4 linked regions of the Homo sapiens genome follow. The protein of the gene in region 2 interacts with the protein of the main gene of each other region in a pairwise test. Each region holds a gene or a part of one and is shown on either strand. Other genes may lie near its edges.

The links.
Region 1: the proteins of DUSP19 (region 2) and ALK interact in a two-hybrid assay, tested with the Homo sapiens proteins (one study listed by BioGRID and IntAct).
Region 3: the proteins of DUSP19 (region 2) and INSR interact in a two-hybrid assay, tested with the Homo sapiens proteins (one study listed by BioGRID and IntAct).
Region 4: the proteins of DUSP19 (region 2) and FLT4 interact in a two-hybrid assay, tested with the Homo sapiens proteins (one study listed by BioGRID and IntAct).

What each region holds. Positions count from the first base shown.
Region 1 is NC_000002.12:29,218,467-29,226,006, forward strand, and holds part of ALK (ALK tyrosine kinase receptor isoform 1 precursor), read right to left. Parts: intron 7,100-7,540; coding exon 6,995-7,099; intron 5,358-6,994; exon of another isoform or gene 5,063-5,357; coding exon 4,876-5,062; intron 4,142-4,875; coding exon 4,051-4,141; intron 3,943-4,050; coding exon 3,878-3,942; intron 2,370-3,877; coding exon 2,240-2,369; intron 1-2,239. UniProt on the Homo sapiens protein: Neuronal receptor tyrosine kinase that is essentially and transiently expressed in specific regions of the central and peripheral nervous systems and plays an important role in the genesis and differentiation of the nervous system.
Region 2 is NC_000002.12:183,088,207-183,095,746, reverse strand, and holds part of DUSP19 (dual specificity protein phosphatase 19), read right to left. Parts: intron 317-7,540; coding exon 89-316; 3' UTR 1-88.
Region 3 is NC_000019.10:7,164,875-7,172,414, forward strand, and holds part of INSR (insulin receptor isoform Long preproprotein), read right to left. Parts: coding exon 7,416-7,540; intron 5,878-7,415; coding exon 5,663-5,877; intron 3,221-5,662; coding exon 3,094-3,220; intron 1,531-3,093; coding exon 1,280-1,530; intron 1-1,279. UniProt on the Homo sapiens protein: Receptor tyrosine kinase which mediates the pleiotropic actions of insulin.
Region 4 is NC_000005.10:180,625,456-180,632,995, forward strand, and holds part of FLT4 (vascular endothelial growth factor receptor 3 isoform 1 precursor), read right to left. Parts: intron 6,420-7,540; coding exon of another isoform or gene 6,324-6,419; coding exon 6,227-6,323; intron 5,345-6,226; coding exon 5,100-5,344; intron 4,883-5,099; coding exon 4,770-4,882; intron 4,651-4,769; coding exon 4,488-4,650; intron 4,381-4,487; coding exon 4,241-4,380; intron 3,973-4,240; coding exon 3,804-3,972; intron 3,545-3,803; coding exon 3,427-3,544; intron 811-3,426; coding exon 656-810; intron 577-655; coding exon 414-576; intron 1-413. UniProt on the Homo sapiens protein: Tyrosine-protein kinase that acts as a cell-surface receptor for VEGFC and VEGFD, and plays an essential role in adult lymphangiogenesis and in the development of the vascular network and the cardiovascular system during embryonic development.

The sequences.
Region 1 (7,540 bases), about 150 Mb from region 2:
TGCCTTTCCTTGCTGGACTATGTTCTTTGTAATAATATTGGAATCATCTTTCATCATCAAAGGAGAGAGATGCCTTTGTCTTTGAGAGAGGGAGAGAGAAAGGGGGAGGGGAGAGAGGGAGAGATAGAGACACACCACTCCTCACTCCTGCCATCTCCTGCCCCCGAAGTCCTTGAACTTGCCAAGTGCTGGGCTCCCAGACTCCCTTTGCAAAGTCCCTCTCCTTTGCATGCATACAACTTTCTCTCCTTAAGCCTCAGGAAGGTCCAGTGGGAGAACCAGGGCTGTGCCTCTTCCCAAAGTGTGATGCCACGTGTCCCCCACTGACAGCAGTGCTGCTGAGAATCTCAGGGCATGAGGGCCAAAGGCTCTGCCTTCCTAGGTGGTGGTGGGAAAGCCAGTGAATCTGATGCCTGTACCATGGCAGAGATGCCTGGATGCCTGGCAGTGTTGGCTCTAAGGACACAACCTCATCTTGATAGTTTACAGCTTCCCAGAGGGGACCACTGGATAAGCAGTAAGTTGGAGAGGGCACTGAATCAAGAGTCACAAGGCCTGAGTTCTAGTCCCAGCTCTTCCACTTCCTGTGTGGCCATGGCAAGTCCCGTAATCTCTCTGGGCCACCGTTTTCTCATCCATAGAATTGGGGAGAGACCTGCATTGTCTGTTCATAGGGTGGTGTTGAGAAATGTGAAAGGTCTGAGGAGGATGCCAGCTGATGAGGGCTCTTATGAGACAGACAGGTGTAGTCTTTATCTCCCTGCTCCCTGCCCAGTCCTCCTGCCAGGTATGCTCAGGTGCACACAAATTCCTCTTCTCAAGGGGTAAGACAGTATTCTTCTTAGATACTGAGATGCGTCACCCAGTGGCTAAGGTGAAGGTATTTTACATGGATCCTGACTGAAGGTGGAGATCAGAATAGCTATGACCTTGCAGGGCTTCCATCACCACTTTGAGTCCCTTTGAGCAGTGTGGTCAGGTTGGGCTTTCTGGAACCACTGGCTGTCAGTCTTCCCTCCTTTCCTGGGAGCGGGAGGGTGGCCGCTGCTTTTACTGTGCAAGTCTTCCTTGTGATCCCCATAGTACAGTGGTTCGTTGAGGAAGCCTGGATCCTAACCTTGGGGCCTGCTCAGCTCCAGTTCCTGGTATCCGGGGCCTGCTGAAGACCTGCAGACCCAAGCATGGGCAGCTGGGCTCTGGGTCTGCCCAGGGTGCTATGTTTAATAATTTAGAACCACCTTTGAGATGTTCTAGTCCAATCCTCAGATCTCACCTGTGAGGATACCCAGGTTAAAGGTTTAAGACTGCCCTAAACTACACGGGTGTCTAATGGCCAAGTTGGAGCTGGAGCTTGGGATTCCTGGGTCCACCCTGGGTATCTTCACTTCCCAAGCTCTGTTAACCATAAGATGTGTGTAGCACCTTCCTAAATATACGGTTGGAATGTCCAGGTATTATTATCCCTACTTGAGACGTGAGGACTGTGGGCTCTGAATGAGTAGCTGCAGAGTGACCTGCCCAGGTCAGTTGCTTGAGTAGTTACATGGCTGTCATGAAAGTTCTCCTCTGTGTTTGTCTCTAGTTTGGTTTTCCAGAGTCAGCAGGCCATGAGAATGGATCCAGGCTATAGAATGTGGATATGGTTTGGATTTGTGTCCCTGCCCAAATCTTACGTTGAATTGTAATCCCTAGTGTTGGAGGAGGGGCCTGGTGGGAGGTGATTGGACCATGGGTGGATTTCCCCCTTGCTATTCTCATGATAGTGAGTGAGTTCTCATGAGACCTGGTTGTTTAAAAGTGTACAGCGCTTCCCCCTTCATTCTGCTCCTGCCATGTAAGACGTGCCTCCTTCCCCTTCACCTTCTGCAATGATTGTAAGTTTCCTGAGGCCTCCCCAACCATGCTTCCTGTACAGCCTGCAGAACTATGAGCCACTTAAATCTCTTTTCTTTGTAAATTACTCAGAGTCAGGTAGTTCTTATATAAATGCAAGAATGGACTAATACAAATGCATTGCAGGAGCCTTGCACAAGCTCCTTGGGGCTGGGGCTCAGCCATCATCTACCTCTATCTTCTGTCCATTCTCTTCCAGCCAGTCAGTCACCCCCCTGTCCAAGCCTAAAGTTGACACCCTGGGTTCCATCGAGGAACTTGCTACCCAGGCTGCCCACTCTTGCTCCTTCCATCCTTGCTCCTGTCCTTGGCACAACAACTGCAGCAAAGACTGGTTCTCACTCACCGGGCGAGGGCGGGTCTCTCGGAGGAAGGACTTGAGGTCTCCCCCCGCCATGAGCTCCAGCAGGATGAACCGGGGCAGGGATTGCAGGCTCACCCCAATGCAGCGAACAATGTTCTGGTGGTTGAATTTGCTGCAGAGCAGAGAGGGATGTAACCAAAATTAACTGAGCTGAGTCTGGGCAAATCTTAAACTGGGAGGAACAGGATACAAAGTTACATTTTCAGCAGCTACAATGTATAAAGGCATTCTGTAAACATGGGCAGCAGGGGTCCCGGGCTGAGCCTAAACCCAGAATCTTGCTGGTGAGCAGGTGGGAAGAACCACAGCAGGCTCCACAGGAGTTCCATTTGCAGGAGAGTGGCTGGAGCTGTGAGGATGTTGCTCAGGCACTTGGGTGAGGAAGTGTCTCAGGGGGCAGGAGAGTGTCTTTCTCAGATACTGGTGCGTGGACTGGGTGCTAGAATTCATGGTCGATTTCTCCCAGGAAGGCCTCAGGCAGAAGGTGAAGCAAAACAACTGCTTCCAAGAGAGACTGGGTGAGACTTGCCAAGTGACAGCGTGTGAAACAGAGCCAGCAAAAGGGGATGGCCTCACGAGTCTATCAGTTTCCCGTGGATTCCTCATGGGAGGGACCAAGACTTGGGTTTTCTTGTTAACATGATCCCTTTAGGACACACAGGGCAGTAGGGCCTAGGAATTCCACATGGGCCAACATGCATGTGTGTGCATACACACATGTACACACAGCCCCCCAAGTGTTGAAAGACTGGGTGATTAGACACCAACATAATAATGGTTAGTTACCACCAAGTAGTGAGATTTGAGTGATATGGGTCTTCTTCAATATAATCTCATACTTGCCAAGTTTTATTCATAATCAGGAATTATATGTATCATCAGAAAATAAATGTTATTTTGTGTGTCCTCCTGTGGTTCCAGACCTCACAGCCATATCACTCACACTGCCTGGCCTTGTTACCCCTGCCACTTCCACCAAGGGGACATCCCAGTCTGCCCCCACCTGTCAGGACGTTCAGAGTCTTCCCAGTGTGACAGGGGGCCATGAGCCCCCACCTGATCTTGAGGTCAAATATCTGCCCCCTCCTTGAGGGGATCTGCTGTCACAGCGGACGCCCTCAGGAGCCATAGGCACTGAGACTCTCAGCTTAAATCCAGATCTTGGAGCCTCAAGTCAAAAGGTGCAGCCAGCTGAGACTCAGCCCTGCTGATGGGAGCCTAGGATGGGGTGGCCTCCCATCATATTAGAAGCACAATTACTGGGATTGGTGAAGGGTCTTGGAGGGAGATTATATCTTGTACTGTCAAAGTCTAGCATGCTCCATTTCTTAAGAAAAAGTGAGGGAAGAAGAACCAGTGGATAACAGCAGGGATACTGGTTGCAGACAGTGACATCGGTGGGATTATTAGGCCACACAGACTTTGTTTCTGAAACAACCATCAAGGGTTGTTCCATTCTGGTAAGAAGTGTCTAGAATGTTTGGGAGTCTCCTACTGGAGAAAAGGGGACATGCTAGGGACAACACGATTTCCCTTGGAGATATCGATCTGTTAGAAACCTCTCCAGGTTCTTTGGGGGCAGAGGGGAGTTGGGGTGAGGGTGTCTCTCTGTGGCTTTACCTGATGATCAGGGCTTCCATGAGGAAATCCAGTTCGTCCTGTTCAGAGCACACTTCAGGCAGCGTCTGGGCAGAGAAGGGGAGGGTGGGGAGGAGGAGGAGGCTGTGAGCTGAGAACTGCAGCCTACAGAGTCCGCAAGCCAAGGGCAGGCTCAAGAGTGAGCCACTTCTTACCTTCACAGCCACTTGCAGGGGGCTTGGGTCGTTGGGCATTCCGGACACCTGGCCTTCATACACCTCCCCAAAGGCGCCATGGCCCAGACCCCTGTGCAAAGGAGAAGACAAGAGGAGACAGAGTCAAACAGGCCACAATAATGAGGCAGCTGGGGGTCCTGAGCCTGGGCGTCACATTTAGTGGACAAACACGAGAGGCGGGGGTAACATACACACTCAGGAGTAATACCCTCAACATGGCTTTGCTATGCAATCTCGGGCTTCCAGTTCTTCACCTGAAAACTGGTAAGAAGGATTCCAACCAGGGACTCATGACAATGGTCAAATGTTTATTCATTCAATCAGTAGTTATTGAGTCTCTGATATTTGCCAGGGACACAGGGGTGCATAAGCCATGGCTTTTCCCCGGGGGAGGTTCATGCTCCTTGGGGAGAGACAGATCACTGTGGGTACTGGCTGGGGAGTATTTCCAGTGAGTGACAGAGGAAGGCGCAGTTGCTCTAGATGCTCAGAGGAGGGGCCCTTTGCTCCCCTGCTCCCCTGGAGGGAAGGGGAGCCAGGTAGACTTGGAGAGAGCACATCTGAATGAATTTTGAGGAGAGCCCTGGTTCTCCTCTCATTGTATAAACTCCATAAACTATGGGAGTTAATGTAAGCCAACATACATGGCCCTGAATGTCAAGGCTTGTCCTCCTAGGAGGGCTAGGGGTGCCCATAGGGAGGGCTCTGCCGGCCTTTTGTGGCTAGAGGAGTCTGCGGTGCTGTGATAACATTCAGCCCCTACACTGCACCCCTCTCCTCCCAGGACGGCAGCAGGGCGCTCACCGAATGAGGGTGATGTTTTTCCGCGGCACCTCCTTCAGGTCACTGATGGAGGAGGTCTTGCCAGCAAAGCAGTAGTTGGGGTTGTAGTCGGTCATGATGGTCGAGGTGCGGAGCTTGCTCAGCTTGTACTCAGGGCTCTGCAGCTCCATCTGCATGGCTTGCAGCTCCTGGTGCTTCCGGCGGTACACTGCAGGTGGGTGGTCAGCTGCAACATGGCCTGGCAGCCTGGCCCTTGAAGCACTACACAGGCCACTTCCTACAGGAAGCCTCCCTGGATCTCCATATCCTCCCCTGAGCTCTGAACCTTTCCATCATACTTAGAAATACTAATAAAATGATTAAAGAAGGTGTGTCTTTAATTGAAGCATGATTTAAAGTAAATGCAAAGCTAAAAATCAGATATATGGAAAATAATTATTTGTATTATATAGGGCAGAGTCATGTTAGTCTGGTTCCTCCAAGAAGCAGACTGGAGATGGGATTAGACCCAATATGGTCTGCAGATTTTATTAGAAGAAATGCCCATGAGAGGAAATGGGGAGGGAGCCAGGGAAGGCTGGGTGAACCAGCAGACTGTGTTGCAAGTATAACCCCACGTGAACGAGGGAGGGAGGGAAGGTTGGGTGGAAGCACCCTGGGTGCCATGGAGCCTAAGGAAGTTTCAGCAAGGCCCTAAGGGGTTCTGGAGCCAAAGTCAGTCATCAGAGGAGTCCCATGACTCCCAGGAATTGGCCTGCCTTAGTATTTCTGCTGTGCTCAGCCATTGGGTAGGGCAGCTTCAGTGCAATCACAGCAGTGGATTTGAGGGTGCAGCTGGGATCTTGGTCAGTTGTGTTTCCTATAGTTGGAGAACTGCCAAGCCACAGAGTTGGAGAAGAGCCACATCATGAAAAGATCTCTGAATTGGTGTCTGGGGATCTGTGCTCTAATTCCGCCTCTTGTTACTTACAAGCTGAGCCATGAGGACCAGGTCACAGGACCTCTTTGGACTGCAGTTTCCCTCTCTGTAGGCAGGGATGGTAACTCCTGCCCTGTTTCCCTAACCACTGCCACTCCCCACCCTCTAGGGTTGTCAATGAAATGAATTCACCAACATAAAATGGTTTTGAAAAATCCTAAAGAGCTCTACCAATGTGAGTGACCATTATCACTCCTACATGTGAGGATGTTCTGGAAGGCAAACTCCATGGAAGCCAGAACAAAATTGTGATTCAGTGGGTAGATTCTGTGTGTAAAGCCCAGCCCCCCAACACATGGGCCAGGGCAAATGAGTCACCCGCTATGTGCTCAGTTCCCTCCTCTATGCAATGGACCGACCGTGATCAGATTAGGGTTACCTGAGGATCGAATGAATTGAAATGTGTAAATTGCCGAGCACGTAGTAACCATGCAACAAGTGTTAGCTCCTATTATCCTGTCCCTTTGAGGGATGGCACCATATGGGGACACAGTGTGTGCTGCCATCTCCCTTCTACCGGCAGATCCCTTTGCCTGCAGGGGCCTGGCCTGCGAGGGCTCTCAAGAGCCTTTCCCTCTGCCCTTTTCAAGCCTCTGCCCATCTGTCCTGGGCATGTCTCTGCCAGCAGTAAGAGCTGGTTGGGACCACACTGAGTTCTCTGTGACCTGCAGGTCAGCTCACCTTGGCTCACAGGCTGAACAGAAATATACTCAGAAACCGATTTTCCTATCTCTCTGCCTGGAGGGTGGTGGAGGGCTGGTTTGGGGAAGAGTGGGCTAGTGCATTACATAGGGTGGGAGCCAAACAGGAGCTGCGCCGGTGGAAGCATGTGGGAGCTAGAAGTGACGTCTAGGGGTGGGGGCGAGCTTTCACCATCGTGATGGACACTGAAGGAGCTCCCCACCCCCTGATCAGCCAGGAGGATACACACGGGGCTGAGGTGCAGAATCAGGGGCTCCTCAGGGAACTGCAGCTGCTCTGGTGGGGGGAAGGTTGGGAGCTTCCGTTTTGGCTTGGCCTGGGCTGCCCTAATCACCACCCCACCCAATTCCAGGGACTAGCATAACGAAGTGACACCTTGGCACCTGTGGCACAGCCTGAGACACTATTCAGTCCTGCCTTCCTGCCCCCTTGGGAGTCCCTGGGGCTCTGTGCACTCACCAATCATGATGCCGGAGAAAGCCAGGACCAGGGCGGCCACGAGGGCAGAGGTCACCACAGAGAGGATCAGCGAGAGTGGCAGGTGTGGCTCCGGGGTGGGTGACACTGGAAGACAGGTCCCACTGGGGTATTGACAACCACACCAGGTCTCCTTTGAGTTGGTCCCAAGTCAGAAATAACCTCCCCCACTGAGACAAAAACTACTTGCTCCTTCCCATCGCTGGAGACCTTGTCACACTTTTCTTTTCAGGGGACCATGAGCAGGACCAGACTCATCCCGATTTGACAGGCTTTTAGCAGTAGCTTTTGGGTGAAGGGAAATTTAACAGGGATGAATATCAGTGGCGGGATGTTGGTTTGAAACATGAGCTGCACAACTATGGGGTGAGGATGGAAGGTGAAACGAAAGTGGATCTGGAAGAGATGTGGGGGCCGCAGGTGACCAAACAACAGGGTGCGCTGTAAGTAACACCCTCTGAGGCTAAGTTACTTCCTTGTGGCCCTGAGGCACTGGGCTCACAGTGGGGAGGGGTCCTGTGCCCTCTG
Region 2 (7,540 bases):
TTGCTAGTCTACTCTCCAAAAAAGGGAAAAGATGGCTATAGAAGTCAATTCAGAAACTACAGTTGTCCATTGTCTGCTACAATGCAACTCATGAACTGTTCTCCTGTATTCTGTCACACTTATTGCTTTCTTTGCCCTCTTGATATGTACGAAGCTGCTCCATGAAGCCAGAATTTGGACATATGGAAGGTCTTGCATTTTTCACCAAAGAAAAAGCACTGGTAAATGAGGTTTGTTCAGAATTCATCAGGAAACCTATTACAATTGCAGCAGCCCTGGAAACGCCTGCATTACAATGAACAAGAACCACTCCATCCTACAAAAAAAAAAACAAACAAAAATCTTCATTATTCATTTGAGAAAGGTTATTATATCAATTGCACATTCTTATACTACTTGAAAGTATAAAGTAAATATTCAGTTTTATTGATTTATTTGATTCAATTTATTTGATTATTGAAATAAAATTCATTACCAGCAACAAATGGAAACTCAATCAATCAATCAATCAACCTGTACCTCCCTTACCTACTAACCCATGATTGAAATGCTTTAATGATGTTTGGAATTCTGAAACAGTATCTTTCATTAAACTAAAGTAATCCAGTAAAGAACACATTAAAACCTAACAACTTAGTAGCCAAATGTATCAGTAAAGTACACATAAAAACCTAATAACTTAGTAGTCAAATGTATCAGTAAAGTACACATGAAAACCTAACAACTTTGTAGCCAAATGTATCAGTAAAGTACACATAAAACCTAACAACTTAGTAGATAAGTGTATATAAATAAGAAAAAAACCACAGGAAATATATGTGGAAACATAAAATAAAATCATAACTATAAGCTAAACAGAAAGCCAGAAATACTCCAGAGTATACTTAGTGTTCTCATAAATAAGCTAGTGTCAATGGCTTGCAAATCTGTTTAAATAATCAGCAAGGAAAAAATTTTCTACCCTTGCACATATTTTATCCTGGCAGAAAGTTACTTAAAAATATTTAAACTTACGATGTAGTAAAATGTGACACAAATAGCTCATAACAATGTGAAGTGGAAAAGGTAATCACATACCAGCATGAGGTCAATAAATGAAAAACATTTCAGGTAACTTGCAAATGATACTTTCCAAGTGAAAAGAGACACAGTGCAAGACCAATGCTGATGGGGGCAATATTGTATTAATAATGAATGTGATAGATCTGATGGGACAGCATTGATACAGCTTGGCCTATCTGAAGCTTTTAAAAAGTTAATGATCTAAATGAAATGTGGTGAACTGTGAGCACACCCTCCAGAATTAGACATTTTAGTTACTTCATTTCTTGATTCTTTATTTGGTACAACACAAAAAAAGACGAGAGCAGGAGGGAAAAAATATACTACTGAAAACCCTCTACCCAAAGCACATATTAACAATACTATTGTTATGACTCATTGGATTATTTTACTTCTGCAAGGCAGTTTTCCGATTCAGACATCTGTTGCAAAACTCCTTTCCTTGATCTGCTGTAACAAATTTGCAAGTGCATCTCTTTTCAAGAAAGCCAAATGATTAATAACAAAATTAGTTAACATTTTGAAAATCCTCATATAAAAAAGGAAAATATCAATTGTTTTCTTTTTTCACATCTTACATTACTATGGGATATTACTCTTTTCTATAGATATTTATGACTCATTTTCAAACTTCAACAGTTTCTATATAAGAAAAGCAAAACACAAATATTCACTATACACCTTGGGAACTTTTCTCATTTTGTAGCAATAGCCCATTTTTACAAAACTTAAGATGTTTAAAAATTATATTAAAGTAACTGATGAAAATTATTAATGAACTTCATTTAGCATAAAACAAATTAATTAGATACTCCAAAGAAACTTGCAATCATAACCTTAATAAGCAAGAGATACCCTTCAATGTCACTTTTAATATTTCCTGCTTATATACTAGTCGGCTTTACTTTATGATGCATACATAGGCTTTTGAACATGAAACTAGCTTTATTTTCAGTCTTACACATTGTGCATCCAATTTTAGCTAATGTTTTCAAATGATATTATTTTCTTCTTTCTACTTTATATAATAGCTGTTTTTCTACAGCTTTTCAATTTACCTACTTTCTACTTTTGATTATTCCTTAGGTATCATATTGTCCTTGAAAGTATTTCCAGAGAAATTATTGGCTTTATATCCCTTTTCCAGAGCTCAAAATAGTAACAAACAATTTATAAACCACTTTTTTTTTCCTTTGCACTTGCTGTTGTCCTATGCCTAGAAGACCTTTGCTCTTCTTGGTACAGCTAATTCTGACTTCTGTTCTAAGACTGCCTCTTTCCAAGTGAAATGAGGGTATGAGGAATGTCTTAACCATCTTTGTATGCCTAGTATTTAGTGCAATTCTTGGCATATAGTAGTTATTCCATAACTTTTTGCTAAGTGAATACATTTGTTCTGCATTTCTGAAAGGAAAGTGTTCTTTCAAAAATTCAAAATCACCATTTTGCTATGGGCAAGTAGTAACCTATAGGCAGATAGTAATTATGCTATGTTATTTCCATTTCATAGAGTTGTCTTTGTTCTTGTGCTATTATAGTTTTCAACTAGATTTCAAGCTCCTTGAGGGCAGCAATGTGTATCCCTCACATCTTCTCAGAATAAGTAATTAATAGTTGTTAACAGTAACTGAGCCAGGCCCAGGTGTTTTTCCTTATATTTAACTTCCATTAAAACTTCGGCATGGCCAGGCACAGTGGCTCACACCTGTAATCCCAGCACTTTGGGAGGCTGAGGCGGGTGGATCACAAGGTCAGGAGTCCGAGACCAGCCTGGCCAACATGGTGAAACCCCATCTCTACTAAAAATACAAAAATTAGCTGGGCGTGGTGCTGGGCACCTGTAATCCCAGCTACTTAGGAGGCTGAGGCAGGAGAATCACTTGAACTCAGGAGGCGGAAGTTGCAGTGAGCTGAGATCATGCCACTGCACTCCAGCCTGGTTGACAGAGTAAGATTCTGTCTCAAAAAAAAAAAAAAAAAAAAAACTTGGGCAGAAGCACTATTCATAATAGCAAAGACATGGAATCAACTCAAATGCCAATCAATGATAGTCTGTATAATGAAAATGTGGTACATATACCCCATGGAATACTATGCAGCCATAAAAAGAATGAGATCATGTCCTTTGCAGGGACACAGATGGAGCTGGAAGCCATTATCCTTAGGAAACTGACGCAGGAACAGAAAACCAAACACTGCATGTCTCACTTATAGGTGGAAGCTGAACAACGTGAACACATAGACACATGGAGCGGAACAACACAAACTGGGGGCCTGTCGGGGTTAGGTGGGGTAGGAGGAGGGAGAGCATCAGGAAAAATAACTAATGCATGCTGGGCTTAATACCTAGGTCATGGGTTGATAAGTGCAGCAAATCCCCATGGCACACGTTTACCAATGTAACAAACCTGCACATCCTGTACATGTGCCCCAGAACTTAAAAAAACCTTGGGTATAATGTGATAGTCTGCAAGTGCTTGACAGCCACCTATGATGAAATAAGAATTTTGCAGTGGAATGAAAATCAATTGTCACTAAAAATATACTCCTTAGTTCAGCGTTTGGGTGGGGTGGGGGAGTAGCCAAAATCTCTCAAAGAACTAAGCAATGTCTTGGTTTATATTCAGGCACAACCTTCTTATCCTGCAGAGGTCTGGTAGCAAACTGGACAACACTTTGAGGAGCACAGGTCAGAACAGTCCACTCATGACTATCCACAGTAGTAGAGGGGAATGTAAATATGACAAATACAAAAAAGTGATGGGTAGACTGCTTTGAAACAAAATGGAAGAAGTAAAGCAAGAGAATAGGGTCTGGTGGCAGGGAACCTAAGGCTGTTTTACTCCGATTTCCCAGAACTAAATTCAAAGGAAAACCCTAACTTTCCACACCTAAGTAACAAAAGCACCGGGGGCTACTGCCTTTGCAAACCCCTCACCTTTTCTGCATGCAGATGGGAAATTTGCTGTCCACAACCAATCAGACTAATTGCAGGCCAAGTCTTCGTTTGCATAGAAGTATAACTTTGTAACTTCACCCTAGCCTCTCACTGGTTGCTTTTTGCAACCAATCAGATGTTTGCACAGGAGCGTGACCTTTGTAACTTCACTTCAGCCTCTGGTTGGCTGCTTTCTCCAACCAATCAGACTGACTGCAGGATACCACTTCATTTACATAAGGTGAGCATGAAGTGGCCATTGGGAAACTTCTAGTGGGTATTTGGACCCAAGAAGATTCTGTATCCTGTCCCTTGGGCCGCTGCTTGGACCTGCTCCGACACTGTGGAGTGTGCTTTCACTTTCAATAAATCCCTGCTTTTGCTCTTTTGTTGCTTCATTCTTTCTTTGCTTTGATGGGCGTTTTGTCCAATTATTTGTTCAAAATGCCAAGAACCTGGACAACTTGCAGTCATGACCCTCTACTTGTAACAGAAGCATCTAAAAACTTCGTGAATTTAGGTACTTATTTAGACCCATAATGTCTCTCTAATGAACTTTTACTTCTATTGAACAAAAAACTACAAACAGCTTACATGTCTCATAGCAGGAAATAAGATAAATTATAGAATCACCAACTACCAGAATACTGTGCAAAAATTTTAAATGATTTGAATCATCAAGTATAAAAAGCAGGCTATACAGAGGGGACTAGGGCCAGAGACAGGACCAGGAAGGAACTGAGGACCAAGAAGTGCAAATATCAGTACCCAGGACCAAAGTGGCCGCCCAGAGTTCCCGATCTCACATGTGATAGCACCCCGTCAGCCCTCCCCTCCTGAGCAGGGATCCAAGAATGTGCCAAGAGGCCTGCTGGCCTCAGCCGGGTGGGCCTGTACATAGGGTCCATGTGCAATAGGGAGGGAAGTCTTCTATTTTTTGCTGCCCCCTCCCAGCCCGCTGTCTGGGACAGGGGGAGAAGGTATTTTCAAGATAAAGCACAGGTACCACAAATAAAGTCATGAAGTTGCCCTCCCAAAAAAAAGGCAGGCTATAAAAGAATATAAACTGTATGATACTATTTTTATAAAAATACATATATAGGTCTAGAAAAATATATCAAAATGCTAACAATGCTTATATCTAAGTGTGGAAGTGTCTTAATTTTCATCTGCATTTTCCATTTTTTCTACAAAGAACATGGACTACTTACGTCATGTTTTTAAAATCACATCTTATAAACAATGAACATGAAATATCAAATACACATTGTTATACTTTGTACCTTTTGTACATAAAAAGAGGGGACAAATAAATTTAGTTCCTAAAAGGACTCTTTGGGCTATAGAAGTTACCATTACTGTTCTTCTCAGGTGTATTTCTGTCCCTTTAGGCATAAAGGAAGGACAGAGAAGCCAAATAGAGTTTTGCAAGTACAGAGGGAAATGAGTAAAGACTTAGGAAATGGAATCCATTCCATTTGGCAACGGTATGCAAAAAGATGAAAACAACAAACTATAGCCTAGAAAGGTAGTTTTGAAACATGTAATTCACTGAGTAATTAGATTTAACAATACTTGAATATAAAATAGACAAAGGCATGAAGAGATCTTTTCTTAAAAAAAATGAAAAAAATTCAAGAATTTTTATTGCTAAAACTAAATATATATTAGCCTTCCAGGCATGGTGGCTCATGCCTATAATCCCAGCACTTTGGGAGGCTGAGGCAGGTGGATCACTTGACGTCAGGCATTTGAGACCATCCTGGCCAACATGGCAAAACCCCGTCTCTATTAAAAATACAAAAATTAGCCAGGCATGGTGGTGCGCACCTGTAATCCCAGCTACTAGGAAGGCTGAAGCAGGAGAATCACTTGAGTGCAGGAGGTGGAGTTGCAGTGAGCTGAGATTGTGTCATGGCACTGAGTTTTCAGGGCAGGGAAATATTGGCTGAGGTTAGGATTCCAGTATAAAACACAAGGCTTGAGAGGGTAGAACATATTTCTGAAATCTAATTCATCTTATCAGAAACATTTTCTGCAGCTCCTCAGATTCCTGTGGTGCCGCCATCTCACAGACCCTCTCAGCATGCTCCACCTCGGCTACCACCTCCATGGCTGACTGCTCTCCCCTGCTTTCACTTTTGCCTGTCAAAGAAGGAGCTCTTCTTCCATGGTGTCCACAGTATAGACAGGCGTACTCTGAGTTCTGGATTTTCTAATTCTCAACTTGGTTGAAAAGTTGTATTACTGGGTGTTAGATTTGGCTTCGAGGTGGCTGCTGAAAGAGTGGAATGTTATAACCTAGAATTGTGGGGTTGGTTATATCCCCACTGGCAAACTTTGACCAATGGGAAACAGGAGCTGACAGGAAGCCAGGCAGATAAATCCTCCCTTCCAGGCTGGGTTGAGGTGCAGTTTCTTTGTACTGCCTGTCCAGAGGTATTTTGGGTGGTAGAGTAGCTGTACCTGCTGAATAGCCAACAGTCAGCTCACTGTGAAATGAGCCCAGCAGGGTAAACGCATCACTTTGTATTGCTTCTCGTCCCACCTTGAATCACTTTCCTTTCTTGCCACTCTCACTGCCTAGAGATTGTACCTCTCAAATTAAGCATAAGCTCTAAATCCTCATCTCAGGCTTTATTTTTAGGAAACCCAAGCTAAAATCCACTCTAATTTACTGGCCCAAATTAAGGCAAACTTTATTTTTTAAATTTATTTAAAATTCCAAGCTTATTAGAATATTCAATCTCTTGCTTTTCTTTCTAGATATGATTAACCTCTCTAATTTTTACTTGCAACATTTACATCTCTTCTAATGTTAATATGAATATGGATGATATCTATACTTTGCCATCTCTGGCATATTCTACATCTCCTTAGAGAAGGAGCCAATACAGAAACATCCTTTTTATTTTTAAAACTATTAACTCACACACTGGAATGTTACAATCCAGAGCCTGTAAATTTTTTAACAAGAAAACAGAATGGCCAATATTAGGCTTTGAATTAAAAAACCTCTCCCTTGGCCAGGTGCAGTGGCTCATGCCTGTAATCCTAGCACTTTGGGAGGCTGAGGCAGGTGGTCTGCCTGAGCTCAGGAGTTCAAGACCAGCCTGGGCAACACGGTGAAACCCTGTCTCTACTAAAATACAAAAAATTACCCGGGTGTGGCAGTGTGCTCCTATAGTCCCAACTACCTGGGAGGCTGAGGCAGGAGAATCACTTGAACCCGAGAGGCGGAGGTTGCAGTGAGCCGGAGGTTACAGTGCACCGAGATCACACTACTGCACTCCAGCCTGGCGACAGAGTGAGACTGCATCTCAAAAAAAAAAAAAACAAAAAAAAAAAACACAAAAAACAAAAAACAAAAAAAACCTCTTCCTTTGCTTCCATCCAAATACAGTCGTGCATCATTTAACAATGGTGATGCATTCTGAGAAATGTGTTGTTAGGCAGTTTCTTCGTGGTGTAAACATCACAGAGTGCACTCACACAAACCTAGAATGGTATGGCCTATTGCTCCAAGACTACAAACCTGTT
Region 3 (7,540 bases), on a different chromosome or scaffold from region 2:
TAATCCCAGCACTTTGGGAGGCCAAGGTGGGCAGATTGCAGGTCAAGAGATTGAGACCATCCTGGCCAACATGGTGAAATCCCATCTCTACTAAAAATACAAAAATTAGCTGGGCGTGGTGGCACGCCTGTAGTTGCAGCTACTTGGGAGACTGAGGCAGGAGAATCACTTGAACTGGGACGGGGAGGTTACAGTGAGCTGAGATCACACCACTGCACTCCAGCCTCAGTGACAGAGTGAGACTCTGTCTCAAAAAACAAAACAAAACAAAACAAAAATTAGCCAAGTGTGCTGTAATCCCAGCAACTTGGGAGGCTGAGGCAGGAGAATCACTTGAACCTGGGAGGTGGAGGTTGCAGTGAGTCCAGATGGCGCCACTGCACTCCAGCCTGGGTGACAGAGTGAGACTCCATCTCAAACAAACAAACATAATTAAATTGCTGTGAAATACTCCAGGCCAAAACAAACAACAAAACAAAAAGAAGTAACAAGTGGGAAGAGGGAACAGGCGTCGAGATGAAACAAAAATGACCAAAGGCTGAAGCTGGGAGGCGGCTAACTATGGGGTTTTGTTCTGTGTTGTGAATATTTGACAATTTTTCATAATAGGATGAAAAATATAAATATTCCCATCAAGTGGCTTGTTGCTACTGCCTCGTCTGAAACTATAAGCCTCAATACCCAGCTCCTTTAAAAGCCAATAACTGACTGGGCAAGGTGGCTCACACTTCTAATCCCAGGACTTTGGGAGGCCGAGGCAGGAGGATCACTTGAGGCCAGGGGTTCAAGACCAGCCTGGGTAACACAGCAACGTTCTGTCTCTACAAGAAATACAAAAATTAGCTGGGTATAGTGGTGCATGCCTGTAGTCCCAGCTACTCAGGAGGCTGAGGTGGGAGAATTACTTGAACCTGGGAGGCGGAGGTTGCAGTGAGCCGAGATCATGCCATTGCACTCCAGTCCGGGTGACAGAGTGAGACTTCATCTCAAAGAAAAAAAAAAAAAAAAGCCACACATGGTGGTATACTCTGGTAGTTCCTTCTACTTAGGAGGCTGAGGCAGAAGGATTGCTTGAGCCCAGGAGTTTGAGGCTGCAGTGAGCCATGATCACCCCACTGCATTGCACTCTAGCCTGGGTGACAAAGTAAGACCCTGTCTAAAAAAAAAAAAAAAGCCAATAACCATATCAAGGAGCATTTTATACAACCTCACTGCATCAGCCTATTAAAAGCAAGAGGTCTGATTCACATACGAATTCACATTCCCAAGACACACTCACTGGTGGCATCTGTCTGGACATAAATGATGTCACTCTTGGCCCCATAGGTCCGGCGTTCATCCGAAAAGGTGACCAGGGTCTTCACAAAGATGGCATACTGGGTCCAGGGCTTGAGACCCCGCATCAGCCACCCTGGGTGGTTCTGTGATTTGGGGTCGTTGGACCTCAGGGGTGGGTCAATGTCTACCACCGTCCAACTGTTGGAACCACACGCATCCTGCCCGTCGAACTCCGTCACATTCTGATAAGGGCTTTCAAGACAAAACAGCAGAAGGCAGTTACCCTTACAAGACCGTCACACTGAGTGCCGTGCAGATGAGGCCTGGGAAGTTACATCCCATAGGGTCACATGTTACTCACCCAACAATCTAATGCCACAAGAAAAAATAACTCGGGAACAGCCAAAGAGAAAGGAACTGTCAACCCTGACATCTCAATGAAAAAACACAGCTTGGGCATCCCTTATTCAAAACACTTGAGACTTGGCCAAGTGCAGTGGCTCACGCCTGTAATCCCAGCACTTTGGGAGGCCGAGAATGGCGGATCACCAGAAGTCAGGAGTTCGAGACCAGCCTGGCCAACATGGTGAAACCCCGTCTCTACTAAAAATACAAAAATTATCTGGGCATGGTGGCAGATGCTTGTAATCCCAGCTATTCAGGAGGTTGAGGCAGGAGAATTGCTTGAACCCGGGAGGCAGAGGTAGCATCAGCTGAGATCGCACCACTGCACTCCAGCCTGGGCGACAAAGGGAGACTCTGTTTCAAAAACATAAATAAATAAATAAATAAATAAATGCTTGGGACCAGAAGTGTTTTGGATTTTGGATATTTTGGGGTTTTGAAATATTTGCATTTTACTAGTTAATTTGCATTGTACTGGTTCAGCATCTCTAATCTAAAAATCTGAAATCTGAAATGCTCCAATAAGCATCTCCTTTGAGTATCAAGTCGGCCCACAAAAAGCTTTGGATTTTGGAGCATTATAAATTTCAGATTTTCAGATTAGGGATACTCAATCTGTAATAATAGTAATAGCAGGAGCTCCCTCACAAGTTACTGATAAGATTAGACTGTGTGTCAGTGCTCAGCAAGGCACAAGGTAAATCTTGAGGGCTAGAACTATTATTAATATTACTACTGGTCAGGTGCGGTGGCTCATGCCTGTAATCCCAGCACTTTGGGAGGCCAAGGTGGGCAGATCACCTGAGGTCAGGAGTTTGAGACCAGCCTGGCCAACATGGCAAAACCCGTCTCTATCAAAAATACACAAATTAGCTACGTGTGATGGTGTATGCCCATAATCTCAGCTACTCAAGAGACTGAGGCAGGAGAACTGCTTGAACCCGGGAGGCAGAGGTTGCAGTGAGCCAAGATCTGCCACTGCACTGTACCCTGGGCAACAGAGCAAGACTCTGTCTCAAAAAAAAAAAAAAAATTGGGGATAAAAAAGAAAAATAGATAAGCAATACATTTGATAACATCCACTTAGTAGACTGAGCTCCTGACTACTAAGGATGTCTGATGAGACATACACAGGCAAGGCAAAATAGAATATTGCCCCAGGAAACTGGCCAGTCCGGGCTTCTATGGGAAAGCTGTCTGCTTCCATTTTAGGCATTTGATAAAAGCAGACACTATTGACTTTGCATGCCATCGACTGGTGAGATTGTAAAAAGGAACCTAAGATATTTATTCCAGGAGGAGGAGGGAGATAGACAGGAACCCAAGAGGGGCAGATTGGAGCACAAACGTAGCAAGCACAGAGCCAGCCAGCCCTCGCCTCCTCAGCGTCTCTCTAACTCTTCTACTTACGCCTCTTTGTAGAACAGCATGAACCCCAAGAGGTCTCGGAAGTCGGGGGGCCAGTACGGCTCCCATCTCAGCAAGATCTTGTCAAAAGATGTCCGAATGTAAGAAAATTTAAGTAACTCATTTTCACCTGGAAAAGTTAAAACAAAAGGCAAAAATGAGCTATTTCAGTGTAGTTTCAGACCAAAGCCTGGGACCCCCACACTTCCTGGAGGGACCGTGAGAAGGCAGAGGTGACGCTGCTATTCCCTTAAGGGTCTCCTCCCCATGTGCCTGGCTGAGTATGAATGGGGGAAGATTCAAAGGTAAGAGCCAGTTTTGCAACTTGGCCACTCACACTCACGTAAGCCAATGACTTGACTCAGCCAGACAGTCAACTGAATAAGCGCAGTCTGTACCCGCGCAAGAAGGACAACCGGCCAATAGTTATTGGAGGAAGGGATTTCCAAGGGTGATGTTTGTCCTGACACAACGTTGTCTCGCATATGGACTTGTAAGACTGACCTGGAAGGAGGTGCAACTCCAGTGCAAATAAACCTATGCCAAGTGAGTTTAGAGACCCTGCAGATCATTAGACATCGGAGAGACGCATCTAAGTAATTCTCTCTGCCTAGAAGACAAACCCTCTCCTAAACCTCACCCCAACCTCGCTCTCTCTCCTTGCACTACATTTTTTTTGAGACAGTCTTGCTCTGTCACCAAGGCTGGAGTGCAGTCCACCTACCGGGTTTAAGCAATTCTCATGCCTCAGCCTCTCAAGTAGCTGGGATTACAGGCACCCACCACCACGTCCAGCTAGTTTTTGTATTTTTTTTTTTTAGTAGAGATGGAGTTTCACCACATTGGCCAGGCTGGTCTCGAACTCCTGACCTCAAGTGATCTGCCTGCCTCGGCCTCCCAGAGTGCTGGGATTCCAGGCGTGAGCCACCATGCCCAGCCCTTGCACTACATTTTGACATAAGTAACTAACTCCCCATGAAGGTATCCCAGAAGCCCTTGGCAGCTCACTGTTTAGAATCTGTCAGGGAAGTGCAGTCAGCAGGCAGCCTGCAGCTGCAGAAACTGCAGGACCTGCTGTAGCATTCCAGCCAAAACCTGACTCTCCCTGGACAGCCCCCACCTATGACTGAGCTTGGTAGATGCCTGGCCGTCCCTTTGCAATGCAGAACTTCCCTGCAGACAACCGTGGCCTTGATCTCTTTCTGGGTTTGGCCAAGACTCAGGGATGCATCACCATCTGAGACTCTCCCAGCCCTATCCTCCCTCCTTCCCGCTCTCTGTTCACAGAGGTCAGACACACGCTATTGTCAAAAGGCTCTTCATGGCTGAGCGTGGTGACTCACACCTGTAATCTCAGCACTTTGGGAGGCCGAGGCGGGAGGATCACCTGAGGTCAGGAGTTCAAGACCACCCTGGCCAACATGGCAAAACCCTGTCTCTACTAAAAATACAAAAAAAAAAATTAGCCGGGCTTGGTGGCATGTGCCTGTAATCCCAGCTATTCTGGAGGCTGAGGCGAGATAATTACCTGAACCCAGGGGAAGGAGGTTGCAGTGAGGCAAGATCACGCCACTGCACTCCAGCCCTGGGTGACAGAGCAAGACTCTGTCCCAAAAAAAAAAAAAAAAAAAAAAGAAGCTCTTCCTCTGTTTCATATTTTATGAATATTACCCTCAATACATTTTCTGCACTCCTAACTTCAACTTGGCAGTCACTTCCCAGGAGATGCAGACTGACATAGGTATTTTACTCAACTTTGAAGTCTTCAGCATCAGCCTGATACACATATAAGAAGGTGTCATCCATTCATCCATCATTCATTCATCCATTCATTCAGTGCTTGTATGACTTCATCCCGTATCCGGTACTATATGGCACAGTAAGCATAGTGATAATATTAATAAATGTGCAGAATCTGCCCTCAGTAAGAAAGCCTATCACACAGTGAGTTGTTAGAGGGAAGTAATACCCCCTGGGGGTGACTGTGATGGATGAGAGAGGACAGCCACATTATCTGGTTTGTGGACCACTTACAGCAGGGGTCCCCAGCCCCTGGGCCACAGACCAGTACTTATCCATGGCCTGTTACGAACAGGGCTGTACAGCAGGAGGTGAGTGATAGGTGAGCAAGTGAAGCTTCATCTGTATTTACAGTCACTCCCCATCGCTTGCATGACCACCTGAGTTCTGCCTCCTGTCAGATTAGCGGCGGCATTAGATTCTCACAGGGGTGTGAACCCTATTGTGAACTGTGTACATGAGGTACCTAGACTGCACACTCCTTATGAAAATCTAATGCCTGATGATCTGTCACTGTCTCCCATCACCCCCAGCTGGGACCATCTAGTTGCAGGAACACAAGCTCAGGGTTCCCATTGATTCTACATGATGGTGAGTTGTACAATTCTTTCATTATATATTACAATGTAATCATAATAGGAATAAAGTGCATAGTAAATGTAATGCACTTGAATCATGCTGAAACCATCCCCACCCACCACCAGTCCATGGAAAAACCATCTTCCACTACACCGGTCCCTCATGCCAAAAAGGTTGGGGACCAGTGACTTACAGGATGCCTGGTCCCCATTGGTCTTCAGGGCAATGTCGTTTCTCTCCTGGCGCCCCTTGGTTCCTGAAACTTCTTCCATCTTGTGGATTTCTGACAAGCAGAGTTTGGGGTTATAGTGGAAGAAGAGTTTCCCCTGAGTGATGGTGAGGTTGTGTTTGCTCCAGTCCCAGAGCTGCCTTAGGTTCTGGTTGTCCAAGGCATAGAAGGAGTAGTTCCTATGGAAAAAACACACACATCTAGTCATTCAACGGCTGGTCTTCTACAACTCCAAGATGGTGTGGCCATGCTCGGAGTTGATCTTGTTCAGTGCTACGTGCCTAATCCTCTCCACTTGCTTGGCACATACTCAACACATATTTGTTGAATGTGGATAACAGAGGAAGTTGAGGAAGTTTTCATGGCCAGGAAGGAGGCTCAGCTCAGTCTTGAAGAGGGGTGGTGAGTCTGTGATGGACTGAGGAATAGGTTTTGCAGAAACCAATTTCTGCAAATAGGGGAAATACTGATAACACAGAGGCACCTAAGCTGAGTTCAGGGAAGAGCAAAGTAGCCTGTTTTGGCCAATAGGTGACAGGAAATAGCTGTAGTTGCAATGGACCAGACCCTCTAGTATATTGCATGCCAGACCAAGACCAAGAACATGTGGCCATCCTTAATAAGGAGAAAGGAGCCATTGAAGGTTTTTGTTTGTTTGTTTGTTTGTTTTATTGAGATGGATTCTCACTCTGGTGCCTAGGCTGGAGTACAGATAATATAGTCTAAACTATATTGTTTAGACCACCTTCTCAAGTCACTTACCAGCTCATGTTGATTAACATGTCCTTTTGTCCCTTTCCCCATTTGCTGTCTGTTCTACAGATGTGAGGCTGGGGCTGAGGCAGCCATCTTGTGACCATGAGGAGCACAAAGATGGAAAGAATCTGGGTCTTCCACAGACCTCCTGCCTATGAGTCAATCTTGATCTAGCTAGTTTGAGTTTCTGCTGTTTTGCTAATAGAGTTTCTAGGACCTCAAGGAGAAGGTTGGAATATACTGGAATATACTGAGATGGAGTCCATCCCAGAAATTAGGATGGACAACCGGGACTAAGAGGGAATGTTCATTTTATGCATGCCAAACTCTACTCACAATGCAGCCCAAACAGCAAATTTAGCAAAAATTCCAGCCTGTACCCTTGGAGGATGGGCACCAAGGTTGGGCTGCTCCCACTTTTGTTTCTCAAGAATGACTATAAAAAAGCTTTTACAATTTTTGGCTGGATGGACCTTTAGGCACATTCCAAGTTCTTTTTTCCCGAGGTTTTGCCAGATATACTTTTATTTGTTTTTTATTTGTTTTTATTTGATTTTTAAAAAATCCTTAAGTTTTTCCTTTTCTTTTCTTTTTTTTTTTTTGGACAGAGTCTCACTCTGTCACCCAGGCTGGAGTGCAGTAGTGTGATCTTGGCTCACTGCAACCTCTGCCTCCCAGGTTCAAGCTATTCTCCTGCCTCAGCCTCCCAAGTAGCTGGGATTACAGGCATGCACTATCACACTTGGCTAATTTTTGTACTTTTAGTAGAGACAGGGTTTCACCATGTTGGCCAGGCTGGTCTTGAACTCCCCGCCTCAAGTGATTCACCCACGTTGGCCTCCTAAAATGCTGGGATTACAGGCATCAGCCACCACACCTGGCCAAAAAAATCCTTAAGTTGTTCTAATACACGAACTTCCTAGTTAGCACTCAGGCCATACACACAATCAGGCCCACGTACCCAATTTCCAAGGTCTCTCCTCGAATCAGACGTAACTTCCGGAAGAAGGAAAGTGACACCAGAGCGTAGGATCGGCGGATTTTTAGATACCCTGAAATTTCTTCAATGAGGCCGAGGTTGGCTTC
Region 4 (7,540 bases), on a different chromosome or scaffold from region 2:
TGGGGCTCAGTGCAACCATCCCAGGGGCTCAGGTGACACCCCCCCAGGTCCCCACCCCGCTGGAGGTGTCCTGCTGGGTGCTCAGAGACATGTGCTTCCTTCTCCCTCCAGATGATGCAATTACGTGTCCAGAGGTCTTCGCTCTTGAGGGAGGTGGGCAGGGGCCAGACCCATCCTGTGTCCAGCTTGGCCAGCTGATGGAGGATGGGTGCAAGGGAGGCTCTGAGCCTCACTCAGGCGAGGTGAGGCCAGGGATTGGCTATAGCTGAAGGTAGGGTTCAAGTTCAGAGCAGGGCCCTGAGAAGGGGTACAGGGAAGACCTGGGCAGTGAGGGGTGCTGTAAAGGAGGTTCCTCATGGCTGAGGCTGGGGGCTGTGGCTGTGCAGGGGACCTGAGGCTGGAGCTGTACTCACAGACTACGCTGGGCAAACATCTTGCAGGGTGTCCAGGGCCGCCAGTGCCACTGGATGCTGAGAGGCAGGGGCACCCCGTAGGCCGTGCAGGTGAGGGCCTGGCGGCTGTGACGCGAGTAGATGCTGGGGGAGGAGGCCTCCTTCTCATGTATCTGGGGGGGCACTGTGGGCACACAGATGGCCGGTCAGCTGGCCTCCAATGCCAGGCCGCCCACCCGTGCGCTCTCCCGTCCCTGACCTACCATTCACCACCAGCTCCAGGCTGATGTTGCGCCTCAGGCCAGCAGCGGAGTTCCACAGGGCGAGGGTGTAGGTGCCTGTGCTGGCCTCTGTCACCTCCTTGAGCACCAGGGCATGTGGACTGTGGCGCCCGGACAGTGCCTTTCCATCCTTGTACCTGGCCAGGGAAGGGAGGTCAGGGCCCATACAGATCCCACCACAGCCCCAACCTCATGCTGGCACCCCCACCCCAAATACAGTTGGGAGGAGGGAGGGGCTGGCAGGAGTGCAGGGTAGGACGGGGAACACTGGTCTGCGAGGGGATGGTCTAAGTCCCTGGAGATGGTCTCCAGGCCGTATCTGCCAGGTGTGACAACCGTGTCAGGCGGCCGGCTCGGGCATTGGTCACTGAGGTCTGCAGTAGCACCTCCTGCCTTGCCCCAAAGCCTCTGAACTCTCCACAAGTAGTGAGATGACCATGTCACTGCTGGGGCAGCCGCCTTCTCTCCCTGCCTGTGGCTGCAGACAGCCTTCTTCAGCCAGGCTTGCCCAGCCCAGCCCAGGAGGGTCCCACACACCTGGTTCCTCCACCCAGCTGGGCACGGCCTGGAGACCCCGTCCTCTTTCTTAGACACCTGAAGGAGTGGAGGTGCAGTCCCTGCGAGCACAGTCTAGCTCCTTGACATGTGCGTGGCCCCTGCAGACATGTGGGCTTCTTGCTGCCCACACCCCGCCCCCAGGCCTGGCTCTCACTGCCTGCCTCGCTGGGACACTCATTTCTGTAGCCAGGAATCTGCAGGGTTCCCTGCCTCCTTCATTTGGGTGGGGGCGTGCAGCCTTCCTGACTGTCCTATGCTGTGGCCTGCCCCTGCCTTGCTGTGTCTGTTTGCCCATCGTCCCCCTGGGCTGGGAGCCCCACGAGGGCAGTGCTGCCTCCTGCAGAGTTGCGCCCAGATGCCTACATGTCTGCTGCACACGTGAGGAAGCAGATGCCTCAGCCCCAGAGGGTGTGCTGGGGCCCCTGCAGGCACCTGTCTCTGTGGCCTGGACTCTGTATGGAGATGCTCCTCCTTTGGACAGGTGCCTGCCCCTGGTGCTGGGTGTGGCAGGCCAGAGATACACCACTGTGTCCTGGGAGAGGCACAGCCCTCGGGCAGAGACCAACAGAGAAGGGGAGGCAGGGGCCCATTCTCAACTTGGACATCACAGCAGGGGCCCGGGGGGAGTGCCTGGCCTGGGGTCGCAGAGTGAGGCAGGGCAGGGCAGGGGCGGAACTGAGGTGGTGCTGTCTGCATGGCTCTGGTCCTGAGTCTGCCACTTGCTGGATCTGAGACTCCTTCATTGCCTCAATGGAGATGACATGCACCTTGCAGCTGTCGTGAGGTTTAACCCGGACAGTGACAGCAGCGTGCTGGACACACTGCGGGTGCTTCGGAAGCCAAGGACCAGCCCATCTGTGTGTTTGCTAGACCGTCCACCCAGTCAGTGCTCGCCATCGTCATGTGCTGGTGCCATAGGAAGGGTGGGCACCACAGGAAGGGTGGGTGGCTGCCATAGGAAGAGAGCCAGATGTGGCAGGAGTGAGCCAGTGGAAAGCTGTTCTGAGAGGCAGCTGCCTGAGGACTGGGTAGACCCTGGACGCAACAGAGCTGCCACCTGCCCAGAGCAGGCTCAGTAATGGTGGCCTTGGAGGGCAGGGGACAGGGCCCAGGGGTCTCCAGGAGCTGTACCCGTGAGTGAGGCTCCAGGATCTGCCAGTGCCCTCAGGACTCTGCCCCAAGGGCCTTGGCACTGACCAGGTGCCTTGGATGGACACCGAAGTCTGTGTCCTCAGTGGGAGGGTCACACTGGGCTCAGGGCCAGGACACCCTGGGCCTTCCATCCCAGGAGAGACGAGCCCCCAGCCAGTGCAAGGGGCCCTGGCTGAGGAAACCCTGGGCCTCTGCTTGCCCAGCTCCAGGAAAAGTTGCCCTGCCAGGAGGGAGGTGCCCAGGCTGAAGAGAAGGAGGCTCTTGGGCTAGCTCAGTGCAGAGACCCCTCCTGGGGAATTGGCGATCAGTTAGGAATACCCTTTCCTAGCCTCTGCTTCCTCGTCTATGCAATGGGGACTCAAAGTGTGACTGACTGTGGGTGAGCCATGTGGATGACTCAGACGGCCTGAGGACGTGTTTGTGAGGGGTGCCATGCCCCCCCAGAGCCTGCAGGGAGTAGCCAGCGGAGACAGGGCCACCCCTGAGGCCTCCCTTCTCTGGGCCGCAGCACACGCTTGCAGATCGGGGATCTGCGGGGACTCCAGCAGCTTGTCGGCCTCCTGGAAGCTCTCTCGCTCGCTGCCGTGCAGCACAGGCCCAGCCCAGGCAATCTGTCAATTCCCTGTGGCATCTCCAAATTTCTGGACAGAAGGGTCCTGGGAGAGGCAGCCTCGCAAAAGGAGGCATAGGGAACGCTAAGCCATTGCTGCAGGGCAGGCCCTGGAGATTCTGCAGGGCAGAGAGGGGCCCAGCGGTCAGGAGGCAGTTAGGAAAAGCCCCTCGCTGTGCCCACCACACCCACATGTAACAGAAGGCTGGTACTGAAACCTTTCACAGTGTGGCAGGAACAGACAGACCTTCCATCTGAAATATCACATTATGGGCGGGTTCCTTGGGGGGTCTCCTGAGAGAGGCCCCCGCCATGCCTGGTCTCCGTGTGCAGGTCCTGACGGGGAGGACGCTGCCCGTCTTCCCCTATGGTCTGTTTTGCCCCTGGACTTGGAAGGGTATCGGCGGGGTCGGTGGGGAGCCAGGGCTGTTACCACTGGAACTCGGGCGGGGGGTACGCTGCCAGCTTCACGGGCAGCTTCACCAGCTCGTCTCCTGCCGTGGCCTCCAGGATGGGTCCTTTGAGCCACTCGACGCTGATGAAGGGATTTTCTGCCGGACAGGAGAAGTCACTGTAAATCCAGGACTGACCCGTCGTGGACTGACCAGGGACTCCCCCCACGGCCCCTGCAGCCCCGGCAGCCGGACATCCGCAGACTGGGGCTGGCCATGCCGCCCGGTGCAGGAGCTGGGCAGCTCCTCTGCTCGTGGCCCTCCCTTCCCTCTGGCTGGACTCCTGAGTGCTCAAGGGCACCGTGAGCTCTGGGCCCAGGCCCACAGGGCACAAGGACCCTGGTTTCCCAGGCCATACCATGCACAATGACCTCGGTGCTCTCCCGAAATCGCTGGATGCCGTTGTTGGCCTTGCACACATACGAGCCCAGGTCGTGCTGGCTGACGTTGTGGATGGTCAGGATGCTGGAGAGTTCTGTGTGGGTCTGCTGGGAGCGTCGCTCGGGCACCCACTTACCCCGCTCTGCCTGCCCGCACCCAGGGAAGCCCCGCGTCAGCAGGCGGGCTCCTGCACAGCTACCCCACCGAAGGCACACCTCCCAGCCCAGCCAGCGGTGGCTCCGGAAGCCCTGGACCCAGGCCCTGAGTTTTCTTTGGGTGGAACACTTGCCACTCAGACCGGGGCCCCTGGGGCAGGCCTGGGCCCACACATCCTCCACGCGGAGGCCCAGTGTGTGCTGTACAGTCACAGGGACTCCTGGGGACAGGACAGCCTGGCAGCGCTGCTGACCTCACCTGCTTCCCTGGGTAGTCCCAGTCAAAGGTGACACCTGAGTTAAACTCAGCCCACACGGTGCAGTTCAGGACCAGCTTCTCCCCTACCAGCAGCTCCAGCGACTTCCTGGGCAACAGCTGGATGTCATAGAGCTCGTTGCCTGTTGACACGCACACAGTGACTCCCACGCCCTCACAGGACGACACCCACTGAGGCCAGTGAGGCAGTGACAGCCCCGTTACTGGGAACGGGGCACAGCCCTGTTACCTGTGATGTGCACCAGGAAGGGGTTGGAAAGGAAGTCCTGGTCTCCCCAGGTGGTCTCGCACTGCAGGTACAGGGCATCGTGCAGCAGTGGCGTGGACACGAGCATGCCCCGCCGGTCATCCCACACCACCTCCTGCCCGTCTGGCCACAGCACCGAGCTTTGCTGGAGGGACAAGGCCACCATCATTGCCCAGCTGCCCCTTGCTCCTGGCCAGACAGGCGGCCGCCTTTCCCAGGGGTGGGATGGGAGGGTCGGATGCTGGGGTTGGGGTGGGGCCGTACCGAGCGCAGCGTGACATTGAGGCCGGGGATGGACACCAGACAGGGCACCCACATGGCGTCCTTCCTGTTGACCAAGAGCGTGTCAGGCTTGTTGATGAATGGCTGCTCAAAGTCTATGGAGAGGGAGCAAGCTGTTGGGGAAGGGACGTGGCGGCCAGGCTGGGGGAGGGCTCCACGGGGCTGGGTGGTGCTGGTCCTGAACCAGCCACCCGCTGGAGCAGGTAGGGCCCCGTTCTCTCCTCCTGCCAGCCCAGGGTCCACAGGCTGGGGGCGGTGTGGGCCCCAGCTGCCCGGGACCCTGCTCCAGCCTGGCCCGCCTCCAAGTCTCACCTCTCACGAACACGTAGGAGCTGGCGGCCGTGGTGCCCTCGATGCGTGCCTTGATGTACTTGTAGTAGCAGACGTAGCTGCCTGTGTCGTTGGCATGTACCTCGTGCAGCAGCAACACCTTGCAGTAGGGCCTGGCGTCTGTGCCCTCGCAGTCTCGCACCACCCCCGTGTCCTCGCTGTCCTTGTCTCCGGTGGCTGGCGCCTCCTGAGCTCCTGGCCAAGCCCACTCGAGGGGGTGCTGTCCCCTGGCAGAGGACAGGAGTGGTCAGGTGGGCCCCAGGGCAGCCCATGGGGACTGTCCCTGAGAAGCCTCCCTCAGGCCGAGCCTCACCAGGTTTGTCTTACCCAGAGCATGGAACTGCCCAGGGTTTGGGCGCACACTACAGACCGTGCCCAGGGCAGGGCACTCCCCGACCCCCGGGCCTCTACCAGGCTCCCGGGGCTGGCCTGTGGCCAAGCACAGGCCTTGGATCACAGCTGGGAAGGTGGGGAGGTACCCATCTCTGGGGCCCCAGTGGGTGCTCCCAGGGTGGCTGGGAGTGGATGCAGATGACCTGGGAGGTGGCCTGGGGTCAGTGTGAGGTGTCAGGAGTGGGGTGCAGGGTGATGAGGCCCCATATGAAATGCTGATGGGGTGGGCTGGGCACAGTGGCTCACGCCTGTAATCCCAGCACTTTGGGAGGCTGAGGTGGGTGGGTTACGAGGTCAGGAGATCAAGACCATCCTGCTTAACACGGTGAAACCCCGTCTCTACTACAAATACAAAAAATTAGCCGGGCGTGGTGGCGGGCACCTGTAGTCCCAGCTACTTGGGAGGCTGAGGCAGGAGAATGGCGTGAACCCGGGAGGCAGAGCTTGCAGTGAGCCGAGATCGCACCACTGCACTCCAGCCTGGGTGACAGAGTGAGACTCCATCTCAGAAAAAAAAAAAGAAATGCTGATGGGGGTGTGTGGTTGAGGCTGGGGAGGACCGAAGTCACCCACAGCCTGGGAGACCACACGGCCCCGAGGCCACTCTGCCCTGACTCTGCCCTGGGAGGGGGCTGCCATCTGGGCCCACAGCCACCACCTCCTGCCTTGGGCTTGTGCAGCCTCTCTGGCCTGCCAGTGGGAGAGGGACCCAGTACCTGCAGGAGATGGACAGGCTGTCACCGGTGTCGATGACGTGTGACTCCTCCGTGATGTTCAAGGTCGGGGGGGTCATGGAGTAGCCACTCACCAGGCCTGGGGTGGGAGACAGGGTCAGCGTGGTGCTGGGCTGTGACTTGGCACGACGTTGATGGGGCATGGCTGGGCATTCTGCATCGCAAGCGCAGACCCCTGCAGGGCCGGAGCAGCTCAGGTTCTCAGCCAGCACCGCGTGGCCTGGCCTCACCATGTGCGCCGTGAGCAGCACCAGCTCCCAGGCGCCAAGACAGCCACGAACCTCTCCCACAGGCGCACCCTGCCTTGCCCCACAGCCCCCATCCTCAGCTACACACCGGCCCTGGACCTAACCCCAACCTCTGACCCCGGTGAGCTGAGCGGCTGGCATGAAGGAGCGGGGGAGGGGCGCTGGAGTGTGTCACCTCCACATCACGGCCCCTGCAGTGCTGCTGCCTGAGGCCCTCCCTCCTGAACTGCAGCCCTACACCCGCTGCTTCCCAGAGGGTCCGCACATCCCAGGTCCTCCCCGAACCACGCAGGCCTCGCCCCCTCCTGCCTGCTCTCTGCCAGGGGCCTCGCCCCCTCCTGCCTGCTCTCTGCCAGGGGCCTCGCCCCTTCCCAGGCCACGTGGTGTCACCTCACAGGTGTCCTTTCGCTCCTCAGCTTCTCGCACCCTCACAGACCCTGCTGGCTGCCCCAGCCTCCTCCGGGCTCTCCCTGCCCAGGCCTCCCTAGACACCCCCAGGTCTTCTCACAGGGCTCTTCCTCAGACATACAAATAAACCCGCCTCATCTGGCTGAAACCCACCATCAGCCAGAGACTGTAGGCTGGCCGGGCTGGGCCTTCTGTCCTGCAGGACTCAGCCCTGCTGCCCCCACACCCTCCTCCCCGTGAGGTGGTGTGTGTGTGTGTGTGTGTGTGTGTGTGTGTGTGTGCACACGCGTGCCTCCATGTGCATCTGTAACTGTAGGCCTGGGTGTGTGAGTCTGTGTGTGCCTATGTCTGAGTGGTGTGTGTGGCTTCCTGCGTATGTGCAAACATGCATGCATGTTTGTGTATCTCGGACATGCTGGCGTGTGTTCACACATGAGTGTGTATGTGGTGGGATCCCGGTGTGGGTGGGAGCAGGCCCCAGGGGAGGTCTGGGTCTGGAACTCTGGCAGATGCATCCTGCCGGGGCCATCCTGAGACAACAGGAAGGGAGGGCTGCATGGCCAGAGGCCCAGGGCTGCGTCCTGTCCCTCCCCCAGGTCCCTGTCCTCCTGGGGGCACAGCCCACTCTTCTGCCCCCAGG